2 separate regions of the Homo sapiens genome follow, and region 2 is linked to region 1. Evidence: fine-mapped expression QTL. Tissue or cell type: whole blood. Region 1 holds a variant in brackets; the other region holds the start of a gene. All regions are shown on one strand. Distances are from middle to middle.

Evidence for each region. PIP is the estimated chance that this variant, and not a neighbour inherited with it, causes the effect.
Region 2: it holds the start of GNG2, and the variant in region 1 is fine-mapped to the expression of GNG2 in whole blood (INTERVAL, PIP 0.99).

What each region holds. Positions count from the first base shown.
Region 1 is chr14:51,965,753-51,974,016 of GRCh38, reverse strand. GNG2 (G protein subunit gamma 2) reads right to left here. Exons shown (of 4, transcript NM_053064.5): 4 at 4,222-7,458. The coding sequence ends at 7,330. Among named protein-coding and RNA genes, the nearest start is that of RTRAF, 20 kb to the left of the region's middle. The variant G/T (reference allele first, on the strand shown) is at 4,625.
Region 2 is chr14:51,856,227-51,864,226 of GRCh38, reverse strand. It overlaps GNG2 (G protein subunit gamma 2), which reads right to left and starts at 3,615. Exons shown (of 4, transcript NM_053064.5): 1 at 3,437-3,615. RefSeq lists enhancers at 3,499-3,708, 3,495-3,996 and a silencer at 4,049-4,128.

The sequences.
Region 1 (8,264 bases):
TTATGCTAGAGCAGCGCTGTCTAATAGAACCTTCCACGGTGATGGAACTGTTCTCTATATCTGTGCTGTCCAAAGACAATAGCCATTAGCTGCATGTGGCTTTGGGCACTTAAAACATGGCTGGTTCAGCTGAGGAACCAAATTTTTAATTTTATTGAAAGTTGTAGTTAATTTATATCTAAATGTAAATCGCCAAATGCACACACAGGGAAGGGCAATTAGAGATAGTGTTCCCAGTAGATAGTGGAAGGGCCCCTTCCCCTGGGGCTAAAATTAAGGTGATACAGCCAGCAATGTATTTCCTGCAGCCCCTGGGCCTGAAGCCCACGAGATCTGACTTCCAGGTTGGTGCATGGTGGTATCACCCAGGCCAAAGGGCTGCTGGCTGAAGACAATGTCCCCATGATGTTGTGAAGACACGGAGCCAGTAGAGGTTGGAGGGGGAGAGGTGACGACCTCCACTCAGCTTTGGCCCATTGTTTTGTGTGCAGAGCCAATCGCCCACCCCTTTGCAGGGGAGAGCTTCATTCTCAGCTGCCCTACAATGAGGGAAAGATTAAAGAGAAGCCCATCCACCTAGTGTTGTCTACTTCCTAAAGGTTACACTACCCTAGAGACAAGATTCTTGGACGGACGCAGTGGCTAATGACTGTAATCCCAGCATTTTGGGAGGCCGAGGCGGGCGGATCACCTGAGGTCAGGAGTTCGAGACCAGCCTGGCCAACATGGTGAAACCCTATCTCTACCAAAAATACAAAAATTAGCCAGGCGTGGTGGCAGGCACCTATAATCCCAGCTACTCAGGAGTCTGAGGCAGGAGAATCCCTTGAACCCGGGAGGCAGAGGTTGCAGTGAACTGAGATTGTGCCACTGCACTCCAGCCTGGGCAACAAGAGTGAAACTCTGCCTCAAAAAAAAAAAAAAAAGATTATCATTTAAGTATGATTAACTCCAGCATCACCTCCTCTGGCTGGTCATCACTTCTACCCTCCCTTTAGCTTCTGTGTCCTAGAATTGACCACTTTGGTAACTGACTATTCACTTGTCTATTTTCTCCATTAAACCGCAAGCTCCGGAAGGCAGGTGCCATGCCTTCTACCCTAGCACAACGCCTCAAACACAGTCAAATACTCAACAATACTGACAGCAAGGGCAACAGGAGTGGAGAGAGGAGAAAGGTTCATATTTCCTGAAGTCATTCATAGACCTCGTGGAATTCAAGCTAAACCTTGACAGAAAAGCAAGTTTAGTTACTCAAGGAGTTGTGTAATGACATTCCAGAGGGGGTAACATCAGAAGCAAAAGGGGAGACTAGCCAGGCATAGTGGTGGGTGCCTGTAATCCCAGCTACTTGGGAGGCTGATGCAGGAGAATCACTTGAATCCGAGAAGTGGAGGTTGCAGTGAGCTGAGATCACGTCACTGCTCTCCAACCTGGGCAACAGAGCGAGACTCTGTCTAAAAAAAATGTAAAAAGCAGCAGACAGGGAAGTGGGATGAACTCACAGCACACTGAAGGAGACAGGATGAACTGGAAAAGAGGGTTTGGATGGCAAGATGGGATTAGCCAAGTGGGGCCTCTCAAGGGCCTTGAGAGCCAGGTAGTTGAGATTGGACATGATGTGGTTGACAAAGAGCACCATGAACCAGAGAACCTTGGGTTTCTGAACATGGTGAAAGATGAGGTAACATCAATAAATCTGTTAAGATGTGGTTGGCATCAGTTGTTTTTTGCCTTTAACTTTCAATCCTGCCTCCTGTAGCAAAAGGACTTCAATTTCCTTAGAACCACTGTTCTGCCCACATGGCCCAGTGACTCTACCTCTATCCCTAGGTCCAGGGGTGGGCGAGCACAGGAACCAGATCTAGCCAATAGTGTCTTAGGAAGGGTTCCAGGGATATAGCCAGAGGCTTCTGCTAGAGCTGTTGTTATCTTTCTTCCTTGATTACTAAACTGTTGAGATATAAACCTGGGCCTGCTGACACCATCTTGATGCTGCGGGGCAAGAGTCTGAGAATTAAACCAGCACAGAGAATAGCCTAGCCAAGGGATGACAGGGACATTCCATGACATCCTCTAAGCATCTGGATCCAGCTGGGCTTGAAGTGGGACCTATTTTGGGGCATTAGGTTTCTGTCACTTGCAATCAAAGAAGTCCTGACTAATGAATACTCAGGGTCAACTGGGTGAAAGTGGGAGGAGATGAGCATCAGAATGCCCATACCAGCTGGTGTGATGGGAATTCAGACATGAGACACTGAGGGTCTCAACCAGGGCATTTGGGGGCTAGAGAGAAAGGAGGTGAGTTAAGAGGTGAGCAGGAGCTATCTAGCGGTTTCCTTTCTTCGAAGGTTGCCGTCAAGTAGTTTCTAATGGTTCTTTACCACCTCTGCCTTCGTGATGCCCCTTTACCTCTTTCATTTTTCTTTTCTTTTTTTTTTTTTTTTGAGATGGAATCACGCTCTGTCACCCAGGCTGGAGTGCAGTGGCGTGATCTTGGCTCACTACAACCTCTGCTTCCCCGATTCAAGCAATTCTCACGCCTCAGCCTTCCAAGTAGCTGGGATTACAGGTGCCCACCACCACACTTGGCTAATTTTTGTATTTTTAGTAGAGACAGGGTTTCACCGTGTTGGCCAGGCTGAACTTCTGACCTCAAGTGATCCACCTGCCTCAGCCTTCCAAAGCGCTGGGATTATAGGCGTGAGCACTGTGCCCATCCTCTTTCATTTGTTTTTAACCATTTTGTGAGATAAATGAATCAGGCATTCTTGTACCCACTTTAAAGCAGGAGAGGTCAAAGGACTTGCCCAAGGTCGCATGGGAGCGCTGGAGCCTAGTTCTGGTTCTCTAGTGCATGCTAATGCTCGAGCACAGTGTGGACTGAGCTCCCCAGGCCCCGTCTTTCTGTTGCTTCATTGTGGAGATGCAATACCCGGCTCCCGGCTTTTCTTATGACTTCCAGAGAGAAACAGCAGTAGTTCTTGCTGAGGAAAGGCCCAGGAGCCCATGGCCTTCTTCATTAAAATAAATTCTGCCTGAGTCTCCTGGTTCTAAATAGAAGAAAATGTAGATTTGGGGCAGAACCGAAGGGAAAGGGATTTCCCTTGGCAAATTATTTGCAATTTGTGGATTGGAGCTGACCCAGCTCCAATTCCCTCTGTCATTCTAAGTGCCATCTACAATGTGACCAGCTTATTAAAGAATGAGAACTGGAGGCAGTCCTCCCACAGGGGCTCAACAAAACAGGAGCAGAGTCACAGCCCAGCTGCGTCTTCCTCAGTGTAGCATGTCTAGTTGCTGGCTAGATTCTCACCCTTCAGTTACATGTTCATGCCTAGGCAGCCACTTCTGGGGGCTGTGGGAAGAAGAGCGAGAATATTTATGAGTTGTTTGTGCCTTTCCTTTGGCAGTATGAAAAGCTAGCTGTCATAAATACTGTAGTGGTCCTCAGACTATAGCATGTAACAGAATGCACGTTCTTGAGTCACTGCCAGGGATTCTGAGTTCGTGGGTAGCTCAGGATCCGCTTTGTAAAGAGGCATTCCAGGTATTAATACTCCTGGAGCAAGTGGTCCATGGACCACAGTCTGAGAAACACTGATGTCAGTGGAGCACTAGTGTGCAAACTCCAAGTGGCCCCCTTCATCCGTGGTTTAAAGATGCTGCTGTTGCTGGCACAAGTCCCAGGAGATCCAGTGTTTCCTTCTTTACTAACAGGGTCTGTTACTGGCATAATCTGAGGAACATTCAGAAGTCTTTCTCGACTAAGAAGATCTCCAAGGAGCAGCTGCATCTAGAGTTCTAAGGACTTAGCTTCTCCTGTACTCCTTTTAAATCACAGATAGCTACAGAGAACAGCACTTCTGTTGTTCAGTCTTTATTTTTCATAAGGGAAAAAGCCCACTGTGGCATACCTGCAGCAAGTGAAAGTGTAAATACAGCTCCTCTGTCTGCATACTCCACCCTATCAGAGCCCTGGGCTCTCCTCACAGCCCCCACCTTTCTCTGTCCCCAAAGGCTGTACCCAAGATGTACAGACCTAGTAAGAAATGCTTTTAGAGTGTCAAGTGAGTTTTTTCTTCTTTCGGACATCTCTATTAACAAAATCCTAAAGAAAATCAATGGATTCCTATTTCCTCATCCATTCATACCATCAGATCCTTCTCAAATTGACCACAGAATCAGTGGCCGTCACAATGAAATTGACTGCATATGAAATGAATCTGAAAATTCCATTTATTAAAACACATACATTGTCCATGTGGGATGAAAATGTGCACATCACATTCAGGTTTTCCTGCTTTAACATTTCTGTAGTTCTCTCTTTGAAACACACACTCCACAGATCTTATATAGGAAAAATGTGAACAACTTTTGGGCTGCAAAACATTAATGCATACATAACAATTCATCATTGCCAAGAGCAGCTAGAAGCAAATATTAAGGAAGAAAGACAAAGAAGTATAAAAATTCCTAAAGACAGCATGCTTTATTTTCTCAAAATTCCATATGTGACTATGAGCGTATGGAGAAATCGTTTGATTTTTAAATTTATTGTTTTGTCCTTGGTAGGCAATCTCCTTCAAATATTATTAGCAAAATCAAACATAGATCAAAGTAT[G/T]TATTTGCATCTTCTGATTGAAATTAAACAGTACTTGGTTTCAAATGTTTTAAAAATAACACTTTTTAAACTGGAGTTGATATTGAGGATCATGTAAAATTATTCTTTATAGACTTTGCATTCTAAATATGAAGTTTATTGTTACTACTTATTAGTTAATTCCACGGCAGATTTTCATTTCTATCGAATATATTATATGTAGAAACTAGGGCCTTAAATAATTAAGCTGACTTTTCCTATTAGTTATTCCTTAAGATAAAATTATGCTGGTGAAAATGACTGTTGAATTTCTCAAGAAATTAAGCTCTATAGAGGCATAAGTAATCGAAAGACTTTTTCCCCTGAATAAGTACAAATACCAAGAAGCCAAAACTCATATAAAGATTTTCGTATTATAATTCCATACTGTAAGACATAAAATTATGAAAAAGCCAAAACATTTTCCTTAAAATGCTCCCTAGAAATTGTAATTCCATCTTAATTGCTCCAAAGATCTAGATTTACATGGAAATATAAAGAGTCCTTCTGAGAAAAGGAAATGCTGTGAATAGTGGAAATCGTCTGGGCCTTCTAATGATGCCTCAGTCACCACCAAAGAGTGTTTTATTCATTCATCCGTGTTTTCATGTGACCACATACTCAATTCATGTTTTGGCCCATGTAAAAACTGTGATATGTTTTAGCTTATTCCATAGTGTTACTAAGCTAATTGTACAATGCTGTAGTTTAATAAATACTCTGCTGTTTTTTTCACCCCTAAATCTTCATGGGCGTCCTAACTGTAACAAAAACCCCACAATTTGAACAGAAGAACAGAAGTATCTGGTTACAGAAGTGCATTCATACATTTCACAAATGTTTCAGTATCCTCTTCTCCCCGACCCCAGCATGAGCTTTAATTGGATGTATTTATTCTTTCACCAGCATGCCCATGAAGGAGCTAAGGAAAACATTTACCAAGTCTGTTTCAAAATCTGTCCTTGGCATATCAAACTTTTTCTCTTCCTTTTTCATGCTTTTTTTTTAAAAAAAAAACAGGAGAAAGCGAATAGAGAGGAAAGAGACAATAAAATTAATTGGGAGATGGAGATGATATTTGGGGATTTGAAAGCAAACAAGATGTAAGAGAGGCCCTCTTTGACTGAAAATGACACAGAAAAAGGTGATCAAGTCTTCCAGGGCCTGCTGTTACTGATGGAGACTACAGCTACAATGAAAAATTACTCTCACTACCATATCTTGGGGAAGGAGCGCTCTAGTTGCAAGGAATTTGTAAATAAAGGCCGAGAGACTCTAACAAACAAGATGGAGAACAAAAACAAAGATTCCATTAAAAAATTTGTTAAGTGAAAAACCAAGACCATCTCAGTGGACAAAAGAGCCAGAACTCTTCCTCGTAGAGCCGGCCGTGGGGACCGCACCTGCCGCCCAAAGAGTGGCGATTTGAGGTCCTTCTCCCTGGAGAGTGAATAGCTGGAGTTCTGAGAATGGTCACCTTCTCTGGAGCTGTGGGTTTATTTCTTCTGATACTTGAACAAAGGAGGGCCATGGTTTTCTTGTTAAGAGCACAAAAAAATGTTCTTTTAATCTAGAATGTCCATGATTCAGGGAAAGAGGGAATTTGCTCATACTCATGGCAAAAGCATTTCCCAGCTCATGGTGAATCCTTAACTCTCCTGCTTGGTGACAGCTGTGCTGCCCTGGGTCCTGGATAAACCAAAATGCTTTGGATTCTGGAAAACGTATTGAAGAGGCATTTATACCACTATTAACTAGGAGGTATTTTAGGTGTGGCTAAGGCTCTGAAGTAATCTCAATTTTCAAAATACTGAGATTTTCTTCCCTCTCCGGGGTCTTTTCCCTCTCATTTCCTTTCCCAGCTTTAGAGTAAAACAACAAAACTTCTGAATGGATGTAACATAGGGACATTTTCATGCAATATTACTCAAAAATTGTCACAAATATATGAAAGCACCAGTCACAACACAGGATTTACTTTTACTTGCAGAATCAAAGCTATCATGTACACATGTTAGGAATAGTGAAAAGAGAACACAGACAACCGGCATTTTTTGTCGTTGTTACCATGAGGATACACCACGGGGAACATCTCCCTAAACATTTTGTGTGATCATTCTTGGAGTTCAATCTGATAGACCAGTCCAGCCTTATCTCCACACTACTCTAATGGGGAGGGGTGGAAGGAGGGGTAGAGGAGAAGGAAGAAAGAAAAAGAAAGGCACAGTGACTATACATCAATGCCATTAAACCGAATTGCATCTACACGGGACAGCTCAGCTTATCAAAGGGTATTCTAAAGACAATATTCATTCCAAGAAGGTCACACATATCTTACCTCAGTACAGCTGTCTGTTTTAATTGTTATTTTTCAAAATATGAAGCAGAAACATGAGGATTTTGGGGGGGGGGCTGGGGGATAGCAGAAAAGAAGTGACACCAATTTTATTTTTATATATTCCCCTCCTCCAGGCAGTTCGTCAGAATCAGATCTCTTAAGTCAGGATGTGGATCGGCTTGCATTCTCATAAAGGGGACCAGATCTTTAAACATGCATAGCCTAGAGTTTCCAGAATGGTTCTCCTCGCTCTCTTCAAATGCCGTGGACTAGAAAGGTGCCCACTTCACTAAAAACTCTACATCAATGTCCCAGGAGCCCGGAGGCTCTTCAGGCCCCTCTCAAAGACTTAAAGGATGGCACAGAAAAACTTCTTCTCCCTAAACGGGTTTTCTGAAGCCGGAACAGGGGTCAGGAGGGGGTCTTCCTTGGCATGTGCTTCACAGTAGGCCATCAAATCTGCAGCTGCCTTGGACACCTGGAAAGGGAGACAAAAACAACCAACACTGGAGTCTGGTACAGTCAGTCAAGGCCCAAGGCTTTAGAGCCCAATGTCCTGGCATCAAATCCTTGCTCCATGAAGCAAGATACTCAGCCTCTAAAAGCTTCTGCTTCCTCATCTGCAAAGAAGAAAGTTGACGACACTGACCTTACAGGATTGTTGCCAGCAAGTCTGGGACTAGGTTAAGGTGAGTGAGGCACTTAGGGTGCAGAACCGAAGGAGGCACTCGCTGGCAGGGGCATGCAGGTGTCAACCCTGCACTTCCATAGCCCCGCAGGTGGCTGTCTCCTTCATTTGTTTTTTTTTTTTTTTTTTTTTTTTTTTTGAGATGCAGTCTCGCTCTGTTGCCCAGGCTGGAGTGCAGTGGCTTGATCTTGGCTCACTGCAACCTCTGCCTCCTGGGTTCAAGCAATTATCTTGCCTCAGCCACCCTAGTAGCTGGGACTACAGGTGTGTGCCATGGTGCCTGGCTAATTTTTTGTACTTTTGGTAGAGACAGGGTTTCACCACGTTGGCCAGGCTGGTCTTGAACTCCTGGACTCAAGTGATCCACCTGTCTCGGCTTCCGAAAGTGCTGGGATTACAGACGTGAGCCACTGTGCCCGGCCCTCCTTCACTTTTGTGCTCCGATATCTCATTGCCCCACCCTGGTCCCAGCCCTGGTAACAAGGGTTAAATGAAAAAATCCCTGTAAATCATTTAGTGTCTGGCACATAGCAAGCTTTCCACACAGGCTAGCCATTATTATCATTTTGTAGTCGTGACTCTCTGCTTCAGGAATT
Region 2 (8,000 bases), 110 kb after region 1:
TACCACTTCATACCTCTTAAAATGGCTATTATCAAAAACATAAATAAAAAACAAAATAAATATTGATGAGAATGTGGAGAAGTTGGAATCCTTGTTCATTGCTGGTGGGAATGTAAAATAGTGCAGCTGCTATGGAAAACAGTATGGCAATTCTTCAAAAATTAAATATATAATTACTGTGTTCCATCATTTTCACTTCTGGGTTCCCAAAAGAAGTAAAAGCAGGGACTCTAACAGATATTTGTACACCCGTGTTCATAGCAGTATTATTTACAATAGCCAAAACATGGCCCGAGTGTCCATCAAAAGAGAATAAACAAAGTATAGTCTATACATTCAATGGAATATTATTCAGCTTAAACAGGAAGGAAATTCTAGCACATGCTACAACATTGATGAATCTTAAAGACATTATGCTAAGTGTATTAAGCCAGTCACAAAAGGACAAATATTGTATGACTTCACATATATGGGATACTTGGTCACATTCATAGAGACAGAAGTAAAATGGGGGTTTCCAGGAGCTGAGAGAAGGAGGGAAAGAGGAGGTATTGATTAATGGGTATAGAATTTCAGTTTTGCAAGATAAAGACAGTTCTATGGATGGACGGTGGTGATGACAGCACATCAATGTACTCGCTACCACAGAACTGCATACTTAAAAAAATAGTTAAAATGGGAAATGTTATGTTATGTATATTTTATCACTATAAAAAAAGTCTCCCTAAACCTGTGAGGCAGTGGTAAAGACCAAGAATATGCTAACTTTTCCTTATGCCACCAAGGAAGAAAAAAATAACATTTCAGTACCTTCTATGTAGAAATCACTCACTTATCCGCACACAAAAGCAAAAACAAAGCAAAACAACAACTTTGATTATGTATTACTAGCCCTTCTTTACAATGAGGAAACTGAGGTTCCTAAGTTAATGTACCAAGGTAAGTAGTAAGAACCAGTAATAGGTTTCAAAGGCAGATCTGCCTGGCTCCAAAGCCTGCGTTCTTTTCACTCCACAGTGTTTTCTCCTACCCACAGAAGTCTTTTATGAACAGGCTTTCTACTTTGACTATACAGCTTTTAGACTTAAAAGTTGGGCCTGCTTTCTGAAGCAGGCTAAACAAAGTCAGTCAAACAAACACATTCACTACATGTCCACCATATGAGGCCCAAGGCTGGCAATGAAATAATGGAGTCATGTTTCCATTCAGCCATTGGCCATATGGCAGAAAAAAAAAAAAAAAGCACAATTAAAATTTCTGTGTTGGTCTACTCCTCAAAAGCCAGTGAATACCCCAGGAAAAATCATTAAGTCTTTCAATATTCCATATGGCCAGAATAAGTGGAAATAGTTTCATTTTACAATGTAGAAGCATATTCATCTTTTTCCTAAACATTCTACCATCATAGTTACTGATCTGCTGTTACTCACTAATGTTCTGCTTCAAGCTGGAATTTAACGATTAAGAAATGTTTTGTGCTGTGCAGAAAATAGGCACCTCTTAGTTGTTTTCAGAAAGATAGCAAGGCCCTCTTGACTCTACTATGCCCGTCGGGCAAGGTTTCATTTTCTTACTCATGTGTGAAACACACACAGAAGACTAATGCAGATTGTCTGTGCCTCCCCAAACAAAGTAGGGTGTTGGCATTATCTAGTGAATACAGCCTGCAGAGGAGTAAGTACCAAAGGGTAAGCCTGTCCTTATCCATGCAGCTCAGGTTGCCAACTTTTTACTTCATTTCATGATGCACAGCTTGATTCTAGAACTCCACTGGGTCATTCTGGATCGAAGATCTATCCTAGGTCTCTTCTCTAAGAAGATGATCTTTACATACTTCCCTTTAAGATGCAAATAGGAAGTGGAACTGCAAAATCCATGTCACGACTTGTTTTGCCCACAAGTTTGATTAAATTCAGTGAATCCTTCAAGGAGTTCCATGGTTTCAATACTAGCAGTACTTTGTCTCTTAGGCATGGTGCAGGTTTACTTTAATGAGCAAAAAACCTCTGAGAAATAGACTTTTTTTTTCTTTAGTAGCTATAAAAGCTTCCCATCTCTCAAAATGTGCTGCTACTCCACAGATTTTGAGAAGCCATATCGATTTCATAAAGATAGCATTAAAAATAGCCCTATAGCTCTTAACAAGTGAGAACGATGATAAAGGAGGAGGCATATACATACATACACTCTCAACTAGCATATTTGGTATCTAAGAACCTATGTTTCAAGAATCTGTGAGTGTCAAAATATTGACTTTTTTTAAATTTTTACTCCACTATAAGCAGTTTTTTCTCTTTCTTTTGAAAAATTATCTCCTTTCATTATAGAAACTCTAGAAGAAAAACCCTTTTATCAATGACTACTTACTGCTTAACTGTACTTTCTGTTGAAGATTAAAAAAGCTTAATTCTTTAAATCGTGCTGCATGAGGGTATTAAACTCCCTAATATATCCTGTCAGAGGAATCTCACAATCTCAGTTCTCATCTGCTAGACCTATTTAGTGTACTTTTACATATCATTCATAAATATGAACAAGTCATAGACCCAGGCTCTCATTAAGAACATCCTTTGCTCAAGAAAATCAAAGAATAAAAATCATGTTCTGGTTTTACTACTTCAGTCTATCTACCAGATATTCGCGTAAGGAAACAACCCAGCTGCACTTTTTTATTTTGTCCCTCACCGAGGCTAACATGCACCTTGACCTAGAGGTGAATAAAATGCATATAAACATAAAATCCATGCATATGCTAGTATCTGATTCTGGACAAGTTACTGGCCTTAAACCCGCCACGCTCCTTTGAACAAGGATGCAACTTTAGGATAAGACCTACTGGCAAATGATAGCTGTGTCTGAGGTTATCCTGAAAGCAGCTGCACAAGCTGAGGGAGGAAGACACTGTTTTTTAATGGTAAATACTGCCCCTCACATACGCAATTCAAGCCTTTGTTGGCAAAATCTAAGTACAAAAGAATTTAACTCCCCCAAAAGCCAAATCACAGCCATTATTTTTGCAAAACAGAAGATATCCCAGTGCAATGTGTAAGAAAGAGAATGCAATTAATATTTTACACCACTCACTCCCCTAAAACAAGGGGACTGCCGGGCTCCGATGACCAGACCACAGCTTCACAGCCCCAGATGGATTTCGACTCAGCCCTGGTTTTCCTCCGAGAGAACTATACAAACAGCTTCTTGTATTTAGCATGTTGGCCTGTTTAGTCATCAAATCTAAGCACTGATGATGAGGTTTTTTTAAATCAAATGTGTCATAAATGTGGTTATTCTCAAAGACCCTTCCAAAAGAATCTAATCATTTCCCCTAGTCCTGAAGCGATGTCTCTATCATCCCTTAGAAATCGGACCTTAAAACCACAAGCGACGGTCGTTTTTCTCAATTAAAAACGAGCAACATGGAAAACGTTTCATTTACCTTAGCTCCCGAGGCTTGGTCCGAGGAGCGTGGTTTTCCCCTCTCCGGAGCTGATCTGTGCAGGCGAGCTCCGGCGCAGCCCAGCCCAGCCCAGCCCAGCCCAGCAGTAGTAGGAGTTGCCCACGGAGCGCGGCGGCAGCGTTGTGAGTATGTGTAGCAGCGGCTGCAGCCCAGGGACTAGTCCCCACCCAGCTTTGTCTTCAATCAACGTTCTTTCTACAGGAAGCAGCGCATCTCCCACTTCCTCCTCTTCTTGGTAGCTGTTAGCGGCTTGCTTCTTTTCCCTCTCATTTCCATTTCAGGGCTTACTCTGGTGGTTTTGTCTGCTCCTGGGCTGCTGACAGTGATTTGACTTTAATCCCCCTTCTCCCTTTGTTCAAGTCCCTCTGGTGCTGTCTGTTCCTTCCTTCCCCTTTTCTCATCCCCCCACGGTCACCTCCACGACAGCTTCCACACACTGCTCAGTCGGCCCCCTTCCTGGCACACTGCCTGCTTTTTTAGCCTGAACCTGGCTTGTTGCTATTGTTGTTCTTGCTGTTGTTGTTTCTACTGCTGCTGCTGTTTTTTTTTGGGTCAACATCCCCTGGCCAGGTTCTGGCCCCCGAGATCCCACACCAGCCTCCACTGTTCCTCCTGATTTACTGTGGTCCCCATCAAGCCAGCTAGCTGGGAGCTTGCAGCTTGCAGCTTGCAGCTTCTCACTGCAGCATTTTTCTCTGTGGCCAACATTTCAGAGGCTTCATTTCTCCAAGGTCCCACTACCACTGAGATCTTACTTAACCCACATGCTCAGAAAAGAATGGCCCTGATAAGTATTCTTATGGGGCACGGGAACTAAACCAAGTTGGCAATGCTACCTATAGGCCTAATAGTGAGGACTATTCCCAAAAGATTCTCATAGATGGGAAGGAATGAGGTGGTGCTGAATGCTGCACATTCCCAACAGAGAAACTGAATACTCCTCTCCCCATTCCACACACACTAGTAGGGCTGAAGGACCCTCATGATCCTCCAGTCCCTTCCCTTCATCTTAGGAGGTAATATCGTAGAACCCACCAGGGTAGAGCCTGCAAGCTGTCTCTGTCTGCCAGAATTTCAATCCAAATTGCCATTAATGACTGTATGAACTTGGGCAAATTATTTAACATCTATGTGCCTCAGTTTCCTCATCTGCAAAACATAGTTGATGATAGTCATGCTCTACATTGGAAATATGAGGATTAAATGAGATGGTATACAAGGTGCTAATAATAGTTCTGGGGATATAGGACGTATTCGGCACATATTAACTCTTATTATTTTTAGAGGATGTTGGGCCTCACATTCAGCAAGTGATTTCGCCAGTCAGCAGCCGAACCCTCACCAGTACTTGGTTTTCCAATTCCTCACTATTAGTATGTTCACAATTGAGCCCAGATGCTTTAATAACAATTTATTCAACGTGTGAGTCATTCTCCCCCTAGTACTAACACAAGGTACTTTGGGGAAGCTACAGATTAAACATGAGATGGGGGAAGGGGAATCCTGTTCTAGTGTCCAGGCAACATTATGGAGTTAAAAACAAAAACAACAACAACAAAAAACACCTCTTCTCAGGAATCAGTGCCTGGAAAGCTAATCTTGCCAGGAAACAGTTAATTCCCCAACTCCTCCTTTTTAATCCAGTTTTGCCTTAATCCTCCAGCAAGTAAACTAACAGGAAATGTTAGAAATCTAGGACTGATGGAGAATAACTCTCCAGTTGAGCCTTCCAAACACATCGTGAGGACCACAGCACGTTAACCTAGAAGGTACAGAATTTAATTTCTATGAAATGTTCTGAGACAGTCCCAAAACACCCTTTGTTTTGATTTGAACAGTTTGCTTATTTTTTCAAGGAAATCTTTCATCAAAAAGGACCCTGATGTCAACTCACTCACACCTGAAAATTACAAAATGGATTGATTTAAGATTGAAAATGAGCAACTAGCTTTGATCCACCAGCAGATAGAAATGCAGTAGTGAGAGGGATTGGGCATGAATCCACCAACATGTGAGTTATCTCCAAACCAGGAACCCTTGTGCCAAAGGTTACCAGGAACTTTTAAATGTAAATTTAAATATGCATGATGCCAAGTCTAAGAAAAATGAGAAGCATGTTATTAATGGTTGGAAACAAGACTATGGTTAATTTTAGACAAGTAGGTTCTGGCATAAACTCTAGATTCAAGTACAGTAATTTTTTGTGTCTTTTTGTTTCTAACTCTCTCTCAACCATCCTCCGATGGTTGGTATTTATATTTAAGCCTATATAGGTTGGTATTTATACTTAAGCCTATATAGGAAAACCTCTTTCAAACAATAAAATCTCTAGGAATTTTGCCTGCTGCCTTTTAATTAGTTCTTCCATCTCTGGCCCTTATAAAACTCACAGTAGGTTAATCGCCAGTGTTGGGAGGTGCCAACAAAACTCTATACAAAGCTAAAAACTAGATTTTAAGACCTCTCTTTCATTAATACCTCATTGCTTTTCAACTGGTCCTAATAGCCTCTTTTTCAGGAGAGAAAAGTAAAGTGTGGGGGTATAGCTTGGCCAGGATAGATTAATCCAGTTTAGAGCTCTTAACACAAGTTTGCATACCAAGTTTGCAAAGTGTTAATTTCTTAGGAAAATGACATCTCGCCATTAATAGTTTATGCATCAATTGCTAACCATGAGCCTATCCCAGTACATTTTATCACTGGGTAAAACAAAGTCTGTAAAATACTCTAACATTCATGCATGGCCTATTTGCAGGCATTAATACCTTGTATTTCTTACATCTACTGGTAGCGGAGGTTGGGTAATGAGGAGGACATAATTTTGGCCTGATGTCTCTCCTATGTTATTGAGCTTTCTAGCTGGATGTTCCTTGGAGTTATGTTTAATAATCCCCAAATTATGTACTATACCTTCATCCAAAGCCTGTTCCTCTTTCTATATTCTCCATTTCATTTAATGAGGAATACAAACCAGTTGCCCACATCAGGAATATAAGAATAATCCCAAAACCTTTTATCTTTGTTATCCCAATCTGATTTAAAGTTCCTCTTCCTTTCCTTCTCACCACCAAACTATCTCCTTGCCCAAACCCCTCCTCTCTCTTCCTCTTGCCACTGTCTTATTTTACAAATGCTTTGGTTTTTTCTGTGCAATTACAATACTTTCTACTTTGTCCTCCTACCTCCAGTCTCTCTTCGAAGCCATCCCCATCAGAAGTACATTGCTGAGATGGAGAGTTGATCAAGTCACTTTCCTACTATAATTCTTCAGTATCTTCCCCTCCAGGTTGCTTACAGGATATATGCCTTAATTCCTCTGCATGGCATACAAAGCCTTCTGTGATGTCACCTGTCCACATTCTCACCTTAGGGCCTGTCGCAGCCTTATATCCTACAACCTTCACAACAGGTTCCTGATGGGACTGTGCTGCTTTCTCCCTGCATCTTGGCACATGCTATTTCTGTTGCCAGAAATGCCCTATCCCTTCCTCTATTTTGCCTGCTAGTAAACCCCTACTTATCCTTTAGGACTCAGCTTTTCTCAGAAGCCTTCCCTGGCCGTGGAAACTAGGCAGGTGCTTCCTTTTCTGTGAGTATGACTGGTGCCTTGCCTCTACTTCCATTTCAGCACTAAAGCCATTATTTTCAGGTTTTGTTAGATGTGCATCTCACCCATTAGCATTTGGGTCCATTAAGGTTAGGTCCACATTTGCTTGTCACACAGCAGAGTCAACAGATGTTTGTATAATGAAAAGGCATCATTGGCAGAAATTCCATTCCTTTGAGTGAGGGGAGGAAAAGGAAGTCTCAAAAATGAGAAGTTGGTCATGGGGTAAGAAATAAAATCCCTCCCTCTCTATATATATATTTTGCAAATTTTCTATAGAAATCCATGGCACATGCACACAAAATTCTGAATATTTGTTATATGGGCAAGCCTAAAAAATTCTGGGACAACTCCTAGTTCCATTTCTGCATTGAACTTCTTATAAAGAAGCATAGTCTGGCAACAAAAAAGTAATTAGAAAATAAATATTAAGGCTGGGCTCAGTGGCCTATGCCTGTAATCCCAGCAATTTGGGAGGCCAAGGCAGGCAGATCACTAGGTCAGGAGTTCAAGACCAGCCTGGCCAACACAGTGAAACCCCATCTCTACTAAAAATACAAAAATAAGCCGGGTGTAGTGGTGCACGCCTGTAGTCCCAACTACTCAGGAGGCTGAGGCAGGAGAATCACTTGAACCCAGGAGGCAGAGGTTGCAGTGAGCCAAGATTTTGCCATTGCACTCTACCTGGGCAACAGAGCAAGACTCCGTCTCGAACAACAACAACAAAAAAGAAAAGAAATATTAAAAAGAAAGCTATTCTTTATTTGTATCTCTGTAGGAACTTTAAAGAGACTGATGAATAAGCTAGAAACACTTCTCACATCCCCTTCTGCACTCTCAAATCTTTGCCACATTCCAACTGTCCCAGAGCATCTCATATGCCAAATCCCCAAACTCTTTAATCTCTCTGCAATGCTGTACACCTCCTTCTCTCTC